Regions from separate parts of the Homo sapiens genome. Here region 2 is linked to region 1. A link means that fine-mapping ties the variant in region 1 to the plasma level of a protein whose gene starts in the linked region. Region 1 holds a variant in brackets. A gene starts in the other region. All regions are shown on their forward strands. Region 1 overlaps HRG (histidine rich glycoprotein). Region 2 holds the start of KAZALD1 (Kazal type serine peptidase inhibitor domain 1).

What was found. A credible set is the group of variants that fine-mapping cannot tell apart. PIP is the posterior inclusion probability: the model's chance that the variant is causal. Protein levels are from antibody-based Olink assays in UK Biobank. Linkage for the fine-mapping came from a reference panel and not from the study's own genotypes, which makes the PIPs less certain.
Region 2: it holds the start of KAZALD1, and the variant in region 1 is the best candidate, but not a certain one, in a credible set for the plasma level of the KAZALD1 protein (UK Biobank, PIP 0.86).

The regions. Positions count from the first base shown.
Region 1 is chr3:186,675,502-186,683,781 of GRCh38, forward strand. HRG (histidine rich glycoprotein) reads left to right here. Exons shown (of 7, transcript NM_000412.5): 7 at 1,546-2,733. The coding sequence ends at 2,382. Among named protein-coding and RNA genes, the nearest start is that of HRG, 14 kb to the left of the region's middle. The variant A/G (reference allele first, on the strand shown) is at 1,823.
Region 2 is chr10:101,056,040-101,064,345 of GRCh38, forward strand. KAZALD1 (Kazal type serine peptidase inhibitor domain 1) reads left to right here and starts at 5,950. Exons shown (of 5, transcript NM_030929.5): 1 at 5,950-6,076; 2 at 6,503-7,064; 3 at 8,222-8,306. The coding sequence starts at 6,554. LOC107984262 (a long non-coding RNA gene) reads right to left here and starts at 4,712. Exons shown (of 2, transcript XR_001747569.3): 1 at 4,071-4,712; 2 at 2,556-3,617. RefSeq lists enhancers at 4,593-4,887, 5,814-6,702 and silencers at 5,015-5,434, 6,615-6,664.

The sequences.
Region 1 (8,280 bases):
TGGCAGAAAATTAAAATCATGTCCAATTCAACCAAACTTGAAGGAATTTGAAAATGCTCTTTGTAGTCGGGACTCTAGTGCTGAGACTTAGTCATTCCTAAGCTTATATTATTGGGCATAGAATCTAAGAGGAATATATCAGCCTCAAATTTATTATGTAAATGTATATAAAATAAGATGCAAAACCATATTTTGCATCTGTCTCAGAAATCTTTGGTCTATTTTTTACATGAGTACAAAGATTTGCTTCACGAAATTTTTCATATCAGAAACAAAACTTAAAATAATCCAAACATCCAATCCCAAGTTAAAAAAAAGAAAAAGGAACAAAGGGCAGGATTGTCACCATGAACATGGCTCTGTCTTTTTTTTTTTTTTTTTTTTTGAGAAGGAGTTTTGCTCTTATTGCCCAGGCTGGAATACAATGGTGCCATCTCGGCTCACCACAACCTCTGCCTCCTGGGTTCAAGCGATTCTCCTGCCTCAGCCTCCTGAGTAGCTAGGATTACAGGCATGCGCCACCATACCTGGCTAATTTTGCATTTTTAGTAGAGAAGGGGTTTCTCCATGTTGGTCAGGTTGGTCTCAAACTCCTGACCTTAGGTGATCCACCTGCCTCAGCCTCCCAAAGTTCTGGGATTACAGACATGAGCCACCGTGCCCGGCCTCTGTAGCTATTTTTTAAAAAATTAAACTCTGAACAAGGAAGAGAGAGAAGAGGTCAAGTGTTCAGCCTTTAGGAGTAAGGGATGTTGATACCATCAAGCCTCAGTTAAGAATATCAGTTATAAGGCACTAGTTTTCCAGTGTTGGTCTACAGATGGGTGCCAGGTCATAATATTGTTTCACCACTCTGTGTAGTAAAAATGAAAAAAAAATAAGGATAATGAAGTTTTTTATATCTAACATTTATCCATCTAAAGGACAATCCTTTACTCTGATATTGTGTTTCTGGCTCTTTCTTTTTTTTTTAAATCAAAATTTCATTCCAGGCTGGGCATGGTGGCTCATGCCTGTAATCCCAGCACTTTGGGAAGCTGAGATGGGTGGATTACTTGAAACAAGGAGTTCAACATGGTGAAACCTGTCTCTACTAAAAATACAAAAATTAGGAGTCTGGGCAACAGAGTAAGACTATGTCTCAAAAAAAGAAAAAAAAAAATTAGGTGGGCATGGTGGCTTGGGCGTGTAGTCCCAGCTACTTGGGAGGCTGAGGCAGGAGAATTGCTTGAACCTGAGAGGTGGATGTTGCAATGAGCAGAGATCGCACCACTGCACTCCAGACTGGGTGACAGAGCGAGACTCAGTCTCAGAAAAAAAAAATAGTTTCTTTTGTGAAACAATGATGGTGGTAAATGATAGTTATTGTTAATATTTTAAATATCAACTGGGCTAGATAACAATTTGAGAATCTTTTTTCGTAATACTTTTTAAATTGATTTGTGGAATCTATGATCTGGGAGCCATTGGTGTAAATCAAGTCAAGTATCTAACATCTTCTTTTATGTTACATGATGATAGGCACTTTTCTGTGACCTTTTCCAGGAACATGAGAACATCAATGGTGTACCGCCTCATTTGGGACATCCCTTCCACTGGGGTGGGCATGAGCGTTCTTCTACCACCAAGCCTCCATTCAAGCCCCATGGATCTAGAGATCATCATCATCCCCACAAGCCACACGAACATGGACCCCCACCTCCTCCAGATGAAAGAGATCACTCACATGGACCCCCACTTCCACAAGGCCCTCCTCCACTATTGCCCATGTCCTGCTCAAGTTGTCAACATGCCACTTTTGGCACAAATGGGGCCCAAAGAC[A/G]TTCTCATAATAATAATTCCAGTGACCTCCATCCCCATAAGCATCATTCCCATGAACAGCATCCCCACGGACACCATCCCCATGCACACCATCCTCATGAACATGATACCCATAGACAGCATCCCCATGGACACCACCCCCATGGACACCATCCTCATGGACACCACCCCCATGGACACCATCCCCATGGACACCATCCCCACTGCCATGATTTCCAAGACTATGGACCTTGTGACCCACCACCCCATAACCAAGGTCACTGTTGCCATGGCCACGGCCCACCACCTGGGCACTTAAGAAGGCGAGGCCCAGGTAAAGGACCCCGTCCCTTCCATTGCAGACAAATTGGATCTGTGTACCGACTCCCTCCTCTAAGAAAAGGTGAGGTGCTGCCACTTCCTGAGGCCAATTTTCCCAGCTTCCCATTGCCGCACCACAAACATCCTCTAAAGCCAGACAATCAGCCCTTTCCTCAATCAGTCTCTGAATCATGTCCAGGGAAGTTCAAGAGTGGGTTTCCACAAGTTTCCATGTTTTTTACACATACATTTCCAAAATAAAATGTGATTCCTTTGAAGAGGAAAATGAATAATACATTGAATTAGAAACATAAATAAAATGACCAGTAATTGTGAAAATTACAGTTCTTTTCAACCTACTTTCATACTGAAGATGCAGCAAAATGTGAATGGGAAAAGAGATGGCCTGAGAAGAGAGATCAAATGGAAAGGAGAGGAAAGAACTCAGTGCTGCCTATTAGTAGTTAATTCTGTCACTCACCACTACATCACTTGAGACAAATCTATGCCACTCAGAATCTCCTTCTTTCCTGGACTTAACTCTAATTCTAGAGTCTCTGTTACTGCTTGGGCTATACCTGGGCATACTAATAAAGTATGGTATTGAAACTATTGTTATCATTTATTTCATTTTATTTTCTAAGTTCCAGGGCACATGTGCAGGGTGTGCAGGTTTGTTATATAGGTAAAAGCATGCCATGGTGCTTTGCTGCACCTATCAACCCATCACCTAGGTATTAAGCCCAGCATGCTCTAGTTCTTTTTCCGAATGCTCTCCTGCTTCCCACCCTCCCCCTATTTATTATTATTAAAGTGACCTAAATTCTCTCCTCGTGATTATTACTAGGCATCTAAATTTTCTTTTGGAAAAATAAGTTCTAAATTCAGTATTGAAGCAAACAAACCTCTGGCTATAAATTGCAAAGAAGCTTGCTAACATGAATCATGACCATAAATTCAGGTGCATAAGAAATGTCACTTTATGCTCAGAACAAATTAATTTCTATTTGAGGATGCCATCCTACTGGCTTAGTGGAAATTTAACCCCAGTCCTTCTTGGAGTCCCCTTTCCCTGCCCTGCTACTTTCCACACAAAGTTGGGCCACAGTTCTAGGATCTCACACCATGCCAAGCTGTCCAGGTGGTAGGAAGCAGGATAGTGACTATCCCTCAGCCAGGGTGACTGTTGGACCAATGATCATCATCATGAGTGATAGCCATCCTGCTCAGGGATAGTCACAACCCTGTTCACATCACTCTTTCAGTCTGATTTATCTGCTACTTCTGTAGAAAACTGGGGGTGCAGGAATGTCTGTACACTAGCCATGGACATGACTGCCAAGGTATGGCATATGGCTGCTCTCTCCCTGGGATCTTGCTGTCTTCCCAGCTGCATGCCCAGAAAGCAGGGCAGAGATCTCCTCTGCCTCAGAGACCCCTTACCTCACTCTTCTCCCTATACCTTCTCCCTCAGCTAACGACTCTCTTGCTAGTCTCAGGTAAGTTCACTTTATTTATTTTTAGGGCCAGAAGACTTTTTCCACACTATACTCCTCTTTCTTTTTCCTCCTCAAATCAGGACTCAATCATTTGAAACAAACTAAAAGAATTCAGATTCTGTCTATCTTCCAACTGCAATAGTGATACTCAAAGTATTTCATAATCAACATGACCCAAGCACTGACCAATCAGACCAGAAACAACAACCTATCAGAACAGTCACCATCCATAAACAACCAGCGTGACCACACTGGCAGGTGCAGCTGAATGTGGCCCTGCAGAATCACATTCCTCCTGGAGGCATGGACACCAGGTCAGCTGCTTGAACAGGGAGAGGAGAAAGGTGAGACCCATGGAGGGCAAAAGATACAGAGGTTAATAACTCAGAATGTATCCTCCCACAGAAGCACTGGAGTAGGATTCAATAATTTACAAAGTACTTTCATAAACTTTGCTTGAGTTAATGAAAATATTCCTTGGAATACAGAGGAGTTGAAGCTCTCAATTCACTTCAGTTAAGGGCATTCTTCCTATGCACACCCGACACTGCGAGGGAATAATGGGATAAGAAACCATTCCCACCTCGGGATGGTACGTTCTACTAGAGGTTTTAGACAATACACCATGCTTTTCTAGACTTCTTTTTGTTTGTTTGTTTGTTTGTTTTCACAGAGTCTTGCTCTGTCGCCCAGGCTGGGGTGCAGTGGCGTGATCTCAGCTCACTGTAACCTCCACCTCCTGGGTTCAAGTGATTCCCCTGCCTCAGCCTCCCGAGCAGCTGGGACTATAGGCTTGCGCCAACACACCCGGCTAATTTTTGTACTTTTAGTAGAGACAGGGTTTCACCATATTGTCCAGGCTGGTCTCGAACTCCTGACTTTATGATCCACCTGCCTCAGCCTGCCAAAGTGCTGGGATTACAGGCGTGAGCCACCGCTCCCGGCTGCTTTTCTTATGTCATCCCAGCTAAAAAGTGTATCAGTATCTGTTTACAAATATTTCATAAACTTTCAAAGGTGACATTCACAGAGGCAACATAATTAATGCCTCTTCAAATGTCTAAAGCCCAAACTCTTCATTCTTCTCCAGAAAAGCTCTCCCACTTCCTAACATCAGCCTTTCTGTCAGTGGCAATACCATTCTTAAAATCCTTCAGGCTAGAAATATTTATTGATTTTCCCTTTTTCTTCATCCCCAATTTATGCTATAACAGAAAACACTTTGTCTGCTTTGTTCATTAAAGCACTTGCCACACAATAAGGGTTTAAGAAATGTTTGTATAATAAGCAGGTACATTAAACATTTACTATGAGTCTGAAGATACGGCTGATCACAGTGGCTCACGCCTATAATCCCAGCACTTTGGGAGGCTGAAACAAGTGGATCACTGGCCAACACGGTGAAACCCCATCTCTACCAAAAAATACAAAAATTACCTGGGCATGGAGGCTGAGGTGGGAGAAATACTTGAACCCGGGAGGCGGAGGTTGCAGTGAGCCAAGATTCCATGACCGCACTTCAACTTGGGCAACAGAGAAAGACTCTGTCTCCAAATAAATAAATAAATAAATAATAAAACTTAAAATTAAGTTGTTTAATATATTTTGTAATTTAATCTTTACCAACAGCTCTCTCATGCAGAAAATGTCATTGTATCAGAATAGGCCAGTTGCTGGAACAAACTCAAGTGGCCTAATGATGGAGAATTTGATTTCTCTTTCATGTTACAGGTCAATATGGGTTATCAGCAGATGGCCATCCAAATGGTGATTCAGGGTACCAGGCTCCTTTTGTCTGGGGGCTCTGCTCTCCCCTTGACCTCAGAATTGTCTCTTGGATCCTCTGCATCCAGCCCACATGGGGAGAGAGTGGAGGATCATGAAGGTGGTTTCTGTGGCCCAGGCCTGGAAGGTGCATGCATGATTCATGCTCACATTTCACTGCCTAGAACTCAGTCATATGGCCACACCTAATGCAAGGGAGATGGGGAAATGAAGTCTGCCTGTACTCCAAGGAGGAAAGGGACCTAGGTAGGGAAAACAGGCTGTACAATCAACCATTTCTTAGGGAAAGAAGAGAACCAAAGAGGCTGAATTACTTGCTTAGGATCTCGCAGTCAGTAAATGTGGGACTGGAATTAGAACCTTGATTGGCCTCCGCCAAAGCCACATGCTGTCTTCTTTATGACACTGCCGGTGATGGTGCCCAGGCCTGTTTCTGAGTCTTCACTGGAAACGCTTGCTGGTCAGCCGCTACCATTCTGGTCTACTTCCCCCTGGACAGTGCTCCCTTATGCATTTCTTCATCCTCCCAGTGTTCAGCTTCCACATTTCTGCTTCTCCTCCTTCCTCTCAACCTAAGAACTTCACAAAATCTCTTCCATTTTTCATATTTTCCACACAACTCCCCATTAAAATCTGCCTTCTCCCATGACTATGCACTTGAACCTATTTCAGTCAGGCAGGGATTCTTAGACACCTTTCCCTAGTATTAGAGATAGCTTAAAAGAACTAATCACCAGGTCCTGCACAGGAGTGAATTATTCACAGGAGTGAATAATTACCTCATTCACTCCTCAGAAACACCCTGTTAAGATATCATGATTTTCCACCATTACAGGTGAGAAACCTAAGCCTCAGAACATTTATGTGACCCTGTCTTCCTTGGGATCACCTAGGTAAGTAGGCAGAACTACATTAGAATCCAGGTTGGACTTACTGCCAAGTTCATGTTCCTGCCCCACCCCTACAATAGCCCCACTGGCTCCTATTGCCCCTTCTTCTCCAGGGACTCCAGGGAGAATCAGTTGGCAAGTTAGATTGGCAAGAGATCCTAACAGCAACAGAACTTCAATCTTTTATGCTTGTAAGACTTGAAGATACACGTTTACTACAGGAAAACACATGTCTCTAACCTACCTTTAAAATTCCTCTCTCCGAATAGTCTAACATTATGAAAAAGGTTGCTTAGGCTTGGTGAATGCAAAACACCATATCCACTGTAGGGGCAAAAAGTGCAATGCCCTTCCTCACCCATCCTCAGGGTCACAGCTGACTTACCTACAACAAACGACAGGTGGGCAAGAGAAAGCAGAGCATATTTATTTAATCCAAGTTTCTATAACATGAGAGCCTTCAGAATGAAGGCCCAAAGACCCAAGGGACAACTGCCCATTGCTAAGCTTAGATTCCATGAAGACTGGACAGCAGCGTGATCCAACAAAAAAGAAAAGATATGATAGTAATAGACTATCGGGGAAACCCCACAAGGCCTTCAGTTGGAGTTCTCCATTGGCCTCTCTGTGGCATTTCTTGCTCCCAGTTATGGTGCAGGACCCAATTGGCATGCAGATCTTAGGACCTACTAGCAGACAGAGTAGATTAGAGAATTTATTTTATGGCCAGCTCCTACACAGAAAGGCCTGGATGAAAGGTGAGAGTCATATTTTAGGTTTCATGGCTGCTTTGAGACAGAGAGATTCCTCTTTCTCTGACCTGCCTGTTGGAAGAGGAATTCTAGTTTCTATGGCTTGCCTTGGGAGAGAAAGGGGAGTAGGAGGACAAAGAGTGGGAGCAGGTCAGACAGTTCTTGCTTCTGAGGTCCTTTTGGTTTCCTTCAGTTCAAGGGGCGCAGCATGCCAAGGCACAATACTGTGGGGTATCCTTTTTTGAGCCCTAAAATATTCAAGTGAACACAGGAGTGGTAAATGTACTGGAACCATCTAATGAAGGGAGATCTAGTCGGATTGCGTGGGAGAAGCCTTCAGCCAATGTATTAGTCTGTTTTCACACTGCTGATAAGGACAGATCTGTGACTGGGCAATTTACAGAAGGAAGAGGTTTATTGACTTACAGTTCCACGTGGCTAGAAGGACCTCACAATCATGGTGGAAGATGAAAGGCATGCCTTACATGACAGCAGACAAGAGAAGAGAGCTTGTGCAGGGAGACTCCCCTTTTTAAAATCATCATATCTCATGAGACTTATTCACTATCATGAGGATAGCACAGGAAAGACCTGCCTCCATGATTCAATCACTTCCCACTGGGTCCCTCCCACAACACATGGGAATTCAAGATGAGATGTGGGTTGAAACAGAACCAAACCATATCATTCTGCTCCTGGCTTTCCCCACATCTCATGTCCTCACATTTCAAAACCAATCACGCCTTCCCAACAGTCCCCCAAAGTCTTAACTTATTTCAGCATTAACTCAAAAGTTCAAAGTCCAAAGTCTCATCTGAGACAAGGCAAGTCCCTTCTGCCTATGAGCCTGTAAAATCAAAAGCAAGTTAGTTACTTCCTAGATACAATGGGGTTACAGGCATTGGGTAAATACACTCATTCCAAATGGGAGAGATTGGCCAAAACAAAGGGGCTACAGGCACCATGCAAGTCCAAAATCCAACAGGGCAGTCAAATCTTAAAGCTCCATGATCTTTGACTCCATATCTCACATCCAGGTCATGCTGATGCAAGAGGTGGGTTCCCATGGTCTTGGGCAGCTCTGCCCCTGTGGCTTTACAGGGTACAGCCTCCCTCCCAGCTGCTTTCATCAGCTGGCATTGAGTGTCTGTGGTTTTTCCAGCCACACGGTGCAAGCTGTCTGTGGATCTACCATTCTGGGGTCTTTAGGATGGTGGCTGTCTTCTCGCAGCT
Region 2 (8,306 bases), not on the chromosome of region 1:
AAATTTCAATTTCCTGGTTTTGATAATTATATCATGGTTATATAAGATATTATGTTATCACCAGGGTAGGCTAGGTGACAGGTACATGGGAAATTTCTTTGCTATTTTCACAACTTCTATCCAAGTCTAAAATTCAAAATAAAAGGTTTTTAAAAAAATATCCAAGAGAGGAAATCCTTGCAGAACTGGCCATTTAAAAATTTTAGGCTCTAAAATTTTTACCTAATGGCTAAAATTTAAAAGAACAACAACAATACCAACTCTTGGCAAGGATGTGGCATAATGAAAACTCATCAACTGCTGAAGACTATATAAATTCATACATCACACTGGAAAAAGTGTATGGTAATATCTACTAATGTTGATAATCCCAGCATTTTGGGAGGCTGAGGTGGGAGGATTGCTTAAGCCGAGGAGTTTGGGACTAGCCCAGATAGAGTGAGACCCTGTGAGAAAGAAAAGAAAAAAAAAGAAAGAAAAGAAGGAAAGAAAGAAAAGAAAAGGAAAGAAAGAAAAGGAAGGAAGGAAGGAAGGAAAGGAAGGAAGGAAAGGAGGAAGGAAGGAAGGAAAGAAGGAAGGAAGGAAAAGAAAATCTACTAATGTTGAATATGCATATCACATGAAGCAGTAATTCCAATCCTAGGCATGTCCCAATTTCTATAAATGTCAAAACCAGGTAAACTTAAAGTATAGAGTTAAAGGTGGTTATTGGCCAGGCACAGTGGTTCACATCTATAATCCCAGCAATTTGGGAGGCTGAGGTGGGAGGACTGCTTGAGGTCAGGAGTTCCACACCAGCCTGGATAACATAGTAAGACTTTGTCTCTGCAAAAATAAAAATAAAAAAATTAGCTAGGTGTGGTGGTGTGCCTGTAGTCCCAGCTACTTGGGAGGCTGACGTGGAAGGATCCTTTGAACCCAGGACTTTGAGACTGCAACAAACCATGATCACGCCACTGCACTCTAGCCTGGGCAACAGAGAAAGACCATGTCTCAACAAAAACAAACAAACAAATCAAAAAAACAAACAAAAAAATGGTTATCTAGGGAGAAGAGGAGGGAAAATTATCGGGGAGGGGCATGATGGGGGCTTCTGAGGGTGTTGGCAATGTTCTGTTTCTTGACCTGGATAATCACAAGTGTTCATTTAGTAATAATTAATTTAACCATATATCTACTTTGTGCACTTTTCTGCTTGTCTATTATACTTCATAATGAAATTAAGTTAAAAACAAAATGAGAACAAGAAATGTAGAAAGGGCCAGGCGCGGTGGCTCACGTCTGTAATCCCAGCACTTTGCGAGGCCGAGGTGGGTGGATCACTTAAGGTCAGTTCAAGACCAGCCTGACCAACGTGGTGAAACACTGTCTCTACTAAACATACAAAATTAGCCTAGCATGGTGGTGCATGCCTATAATCCCAGCTACACGGGAGGCTGAGGCAGGAGAATTGCTTGAACGTGGAAAGTGGAGGTTGCAGTGAGCCGAGATTGTGCCATTGCACTCCAGCCTGGGCAACAACAGTGAAACTCTGTCTCAAAAAAAAAAAGAAAGAAAGAAATAGAAATGTAGAAACAATGTACATGTGGAATGATTTAAGCATCTTTTCTAAGTTTATCAATATAACATTTGGCCAAGTCATCAGGTTGGATGGAGCTACAGTCACCATTTCAAGGGTCAATGGGATACTGAAGGTGGGTGTTAGGGGGAGGGATTGCCTTTTGAGATATACGAAGGTAGACTGAGGCCTGATTTAGATGTCCTGAAGCTTATTCAACTTGCCTTAATGCCTAGGTATTCCAGAAAGCCAGTTCCTGGCTATTCCAGTCTTCATTTTGTAACACTACTTATAGCTGAATTATGTTTTCCTTTTTCTTTTCTTTTCTTGTTTTTTTTGAGATGGAGTTTTGCTCTGTCACCTAGGTTGGCGTGGTGGCGCGATCTCGGTTCACTGCAACCTCCGCCTCCTGGGTTCAAGCGATTCTACTGTCTCAGCCTCCCAAGTAGCTGGGATTATACGCATGCGCCACCATAACCAGCTAATTTTTGTATTTTTAATAGAGATGGGGTTTTGCCATGTTGGCCAGGCTGGTCTCGAACTCCTGACCTCAGGTGATCCGCCCACCTTGGTCTCCCAAAGGGCTGGGATTACAGGCATGAACCACTGTGCCCAGCCAATCTTTTTACCTGGCCACCCCAGCTTTGCTACATTTATCTTGACATTCTAATTTACCTATAAAAATAGCCTCTACTAGGAAGCCAAGGTGAGCAGATCACTTGAGGTCAGGAGTTCAAGACCAGCCTGGCCAACATGACAAAACCCTGTCTCTACTTAAAAAAAAAAAAAAAAAAAAAAAAAAATTAGCCAGGTGGCTACTCAGGAGGCTGAGGTAGGAGGATCGCTTGAACCCGGGAGGCCGAGGTTGCAGTGAGCTGAGATTGCGCCACTGTACTCCAGCCTGGGCGATAAAGCTAGACTCTGTCTCAAAAAAAAAAAAAAAAAAAAGGAAAAATAACTTATAAAGCAGTAGTGAGTATTACACTCAACCATTAGCCTCATTCCAAATTCTCTTAGGATGTTTATTGATGATATAGATGATAAATACACATACAGTTGTGATCAGTATCCATATACTTCTTCTTTTCTCTTAACCTTATTTTTCCATACATACTTTTCACTTTGTTTCCTACATACATTATTTTGAGTTTACCTATTTGTCATAGTTGGTAGCTACAAAGTATTCCATTTTAATTATCTATGTTGAGGTTTTTTTTTTAATCAACCAATTCTAATATTCACAGGAAGCACAATTTCTCCATATCCGTCTTTAATAGGTCAGTATGGACCATTTGTTTCATTCCTGCTTCTTCCTCAAAGTTGCAACTCTACTATTTTCACCAGCTGTGTCAAAACAGGGTTTGTGAAGTGACAGGTTGAAATATGTGGATCATTTGAAGTAATTTCTTTTCTTTACCAAATTAAACAATGACTGTATGCCTTGTTTCATCTTTTGTTGTTCATCTGTATAGGGCTCTTTTCACTCTTTTATTTTTAAAATTCTATTTTTTATTTTTATTTTTTGAGAGGGGGTCTTGCTCTGTCACCCAGGCTGGAGTGCAGTGGCGTGATCTGGGCTCACTGCAACCTCTGCCTCCCAGATTCAAGCGATTCTCCTGCCTCAGCCTCCTGAGTAGCTGGGATTACAGGCGTGCACCACCACGCTGGGCTAATTTTTGTATTTTTAGTAGAGACAGGGTTTCACCATATTGACCAGGCTGGTCTCAAGCTCCTGACCTCAGGTGATCCACCCGCCTCCGCCTCCCAAAGTGCTGGGATTAAGAGGTATGAGCCACCACGCCTGGCCCTAAACTTCTATTTTTAAAGAGACATGGTCTCTCGAACCCTTGAGCTCAAGGGATCCTACTGCCTCAGTCTCCCAAGTAGCTGGTGCTACAGGCGTGCACCACCACACTCCAGCTCATCATTCTGTCATTATACTTCAGTTATTTCATGTGTCAGTGACTGAAAGTGAACGTATGATAATCTTGTGAACACAGGGCTTCACAGTGGAAAGAAAACTACATTCTATACCTCATTCCTTCTTCAATACAAGCATCTGCAGGAAAAGGGGAAAAAAGAGGCGGGACCATCTATTATTCAACAAATTTCAACTTCACCCTGCCCATCTGGATCTAGTCTCCCTCATTAAATGCAAAGGATGCTGCCACCTGGCTCCTCTCCCTAGCAGTATTCACATCATCTAGGCTAGAAAATCCCTTCCCTTTGGCCTGTTTTGCACAAAACCGAGTAAACATTTTCAAAGTATATATACGCAAAATCATTTGCTATCTCTTTACTATGTATGATGCGCATAGGTGTTACTGAATATTTTGGAGCCTTGATGGATAAAGTATGGGATGTTGAGGATCGGGGAATGTATCTAAACTTTCAAGTTGTGTCCTATTCAAAAAACTCCCTTCTAAAAGCATTTTTACGGTATGTAGGGTTTTAATGTAACAAAATCTCTACTTAATAACAGCGGATCCCCTTTTATTATCTTTGTGCCTACCTGGATGCACGGTTCCAGCATGTTCTCGTCACGAACCACAAGCCCACCAGAGGGCGCTGGTTCCCCGTCTACCTACTGTTCTCCATCAGCGACTCAGAAAATCCAGGTTAAACACTCAGGCAGTCTTTCACATTTAATCCACAAATATTTACCGAGAATTTGACGTGCCACCAGGCGCGGGGCTAGGTTCACAAGATACAGTAGTGAGTTAGGCACGATTCCTACTACCAGAAGCTTAGAGCATAGGGAAGACTAAAAGTAAGCCACCGTCTACAATAGTAGGATAAGTGGAGAGTTTCTAGGTCCGTGGAGTTTGTTGTTGAATATCTGCTCCAGGCCTTAGAAGCCGGCAGCAATTCACTAAAAGATCCCGGACTTGTCTGCTCTGTATCCCAGCCAAGGAGCTCCGTCCCCAAGGTGTTTTGTTAGAGTCAGAGACCTCTCCTTGGGTGATTCCATTCGTCAGCCCCACAAGTCCCCGTCTCTGGCCTTTTTCAGGGTCTCCGGCAGCTCTCTGACAGTTCCCCTTCTGTCTCAGGTCGACACTTATTCCAAGGACCAGGGATTACTCACAACTATCCGCCAGAGTTTGCTCCGCCCTTTCTTTTTCCTGTTTAAAATCCGCGGGCTCTTAGTGTTCTCGGTTCCTAGATTTCCTGTTCTGATTCTCGCGACAGTTGCGAGGCCTCGCGTGAAGTTCCCTTCTAGTCCCTATTTCGAATTTGAGACCGGGAGAGAGTGTCTGCCCTTGCCCACCTCCTCAGAACCCCTCTGGCCAGGGATGGCGCCTACGTGGCTCGGGAGCCCCTGAATGAATGGGCTTGGCCCAACTTAGGGGCGCATTCCGACGGGAGAGTCCTGGCTGTATTCCGAGGCTCCAGTGCGCATGCGGAGTCGATCCCGCGCAGGCGGGCGGGGACGGCAGCCGGGTCTTGTGGGCGGAGCCTGACTAAGTGCCGCCCCCTTGCCGGCTGCAGATTGCTATTTCTGCCCCCCACCCTCGCCCATCCCCCCGCGAGCTGGACTGCGCCAAGGCTTCTGTGAGCCGCTTGGGGCCGGCCGGGGCGGGGCCTGCCCGACCCGGGTTTGGCTGGCGGGCCCCTAGGAATGCTCTCCTCCCCGCCCCCGGCCCAAAGTGCCACGGTGGCGGTGGTGGCGGCCGCGAGGCCGAGTGTCTCCGGCCCTGCCAGCCTCGCAACCGTAACCTGTAATCCCGACCCGAGGGACGCCCGCCGGGGAGGCGCCAGCCCGCCTCTCCCTGCGGCCGCTGGTCGGCTCCGACCTCGAATCACCCGGCTCACCCGCGGGTCGCAGCACCTGCCGGATGTGGGGAGGAAGAAGGAGGCCAGATGAGGGAAGGCGGATGTAGGCGCCCAGTCTGTCCGCGCCTTGGTGGGGCAGCTGGGTGGGCAAGCCTGCGGTCGCTCCCGGGAACCAGCCCTGGGCTGCGGGGAGACGAAGGTGGTTGGTCCTGCCCTCCAGGAGCGCCCCGACATCGACGTAAAATGACTTGGCACCAGAGCTCCTGCCGCCTCCCCCTTATGCAGCTGCCCTCGCCGACGCCAGGGACTGTAAAATCAGATGGGACAGGGCCTAGCCGTTCAGCCAACACTTTGAGCTTCCCAGCCAAACTCCTACCCCCACTCCCCGCCTCCGGTCCTCACCCCCTTCCTCTCTCCCAGCCTCGGTGTCTGGTTACGGCTCCTCTGCTCGCATTGTGACTTTGGGCCAGGCTGGGGGAAATGACCCGGGAGGGTCCCATGCGGCTACATAAAATTGGCAGCCTTAGAACTAGTGGGAAGGCGGGTGCGCGAAGTCGAGGGGCGGAGAGAGGGGGCCGGAGGAGCTGCTTTCTGAATCCAAGTTCGTGGGCTCTCTCAGAAGTCCTCAGGACGGAGCAGAGGTGGCCGGCGGGCCCGGCTGACTGCGCCTCTGCTTTCTTTCCATAACCTTTTCTTTCGGACTCGAATCACGGCTGCTGCGAAGGGTCTAGTTCCGGACACTAGGTGAGCACTCTGTGCCCCAGGCCATAAGCGAGGCGGCATCAGCCCCCCCAGTTCTCACCCCCCATTAGCAGCTTCTTACTTCTGGAGCCACCCATTCTCTTTGGGCAAGGATGCTCAGGGGCCAGGGATCGGAGTCGGGTGGTGCACGGAAGTGGTGCTGGTGGTGGGTGTGCGTGCGCCTGAGCCTTATCACCCTTTCCTCACCTCTCTTCACTCCCAGCCCTCCCAAGAACAGCCCAACTGATTGCTAACTGCCATAACTGGATAATCCCTAGAGGGTCACTAGGCCTGTGTGTTGGGGGAGGCTACTTGGTAGCAGGGGAGGGGGCGATGCTAGTGTCATGCTTTGGTACAAGAAGCAGTGAGGTTGGTCTTTCGGCACAGGCCCTGTTTCTGACCTCCTGACCTGGCTTCCCTTCCTGGCAGGGTGCCCGAACGCGCTGATGCCCCGAGTGCTCGCAGGGCTTCCCGCTAACCATGCTGCCGCCGCCGCGGCCCGCAGCTGCCTTGGCGCTGCCTGTGCTCCTGCTACTGCTGGTGGTGCTGACGCCGCCCCCGACCGGCGCAAGGCCATCCCCAGGCCCAGATTACCTGCGGCGCGGCTGGATGCGGCTGCTAGCGGAGGGCGAGGGCTGCGCTCCCTGCCGGCCAGAAGAGTGCGCCGCGCCGCGGGGCTGCCTGGCGGGCAGGGTGCGCGACGCGTGCGGCTGCTGCTGGGAATGCGCCAACCTCGAGGGCCAGCTCTGCGACCTGGACCCCAGTGCTCACTTCTACGGGCACTGCGGCGAGCAGCTTGAGTGCCGGCTGGACACAGGCGGCGACCTGAGCCGCGGAGAGGTGCCGGAACCTCTGTGTGCCTGTCGTTCGCAGAGTCCGCTCTGCGGGTCCGACGGTCACACCTACTCCCAGATCTGCCGCCTGCAGGAGGCGGCCCGCGCTCGGCCCGATGCCAACCTCACTGTGGCACACCCGGGGCCCTGCGAATCGGGTACGCATGGCCCGGGGCCCCCACCCCAGCACTTAGGTTTCCTAGAGGCACTGCTCCCCGACCCCTGACAGCATTGGTCTCTGGCCAGCAGAGCAAAAAAGATAAGGCTATAGAGGCCTCGAGTCCAGTATAAAACCCTGCTCTCGCTACTGGTTCATAAAAGCTGCCACCTTAAGGTGGGGGTGGGGGGTGGAGTGGAGTGGGAGTCCCGGGCTTCGTCAGCAAGCTGCATTCGCTGAACCACGTGAAAGCTCCAGAGCTGGCTGGCAGGGAGAGACAGGTCCTCTGAGGGCGCAGGCACATAACCTATGGTTTGCTCAGAGACCCCCCCGACTTTTCCCAGACCAGTGGAGTCCAGGCAGCAAGACGGGTTCCTGTGAGATGCAATCACGTTTCATTCTTAGAGCAGTTTGTTCACCCAGTCTCCCCACCTCTCTGCTTTCTCCTGCTTTTAGGGATTAGTGAAGGGGAGCGGGAAGTTCTTTCTCTATCCCTGGGGACTGGGGTCCATTCAGGCCTCTAGCTTTCCTTGGTAGCTTTAGTAACTTTCACTTCCTGAGCCCGGGCTCTGCGTCTGGCTCGGCTGGGGCAGCCAGAAAACAAACACCCCGTGGGGGTCCCAGCAATTTCCTCCACTCCTGCAGGCTTCCTGCCTGTCGCACAAGTCCAGCTTCAGGTTCTCTGCCTTGCCGCAGGACTCCCCCAGGGGGTACTGAGGAGGGAACGGCTGCTTTTCCTCCTTTGGGAACTGGGCCTGTTTAGAAAAGGGGAAGGGGGATCTGGAAGGTTTTGATTACAGGCACGCAGGAAAGGCTGGGGAGGGTGAAATGAGGACAGGGGAGCAGTTAGGGACAGAGTGGCTGCCAAGCTACAATGTAGATGTGTGTGCTTGTTTGTGCATTGGGTCTGCATGAGGTTCTATGTGCACATGTGCATGTATACCTATCTCCACGTCTGCGTGGTACCCTTGTGTGTACCAGCATCCATATCTGTGTGTACCTGTGTGTGTCACGGTGTGTTTATGGATGTGTATTTACCTCAGCATATATTGTGTTCTGCCACAAGCATGTCCACAAAAATTTGTGTATCATGTCTTTGCCAGACTGGATGCCTTTGCTGGGCCATGCTATTCTCAGACCTCCCGCCTTCACCCCCAGGGCCCCAGATCGTGTCACATCCATATGACACTTGGAATGTGACAGGGCAGGATGTGATCTTTGGCTGTGAAGTGTTTGCCTACCC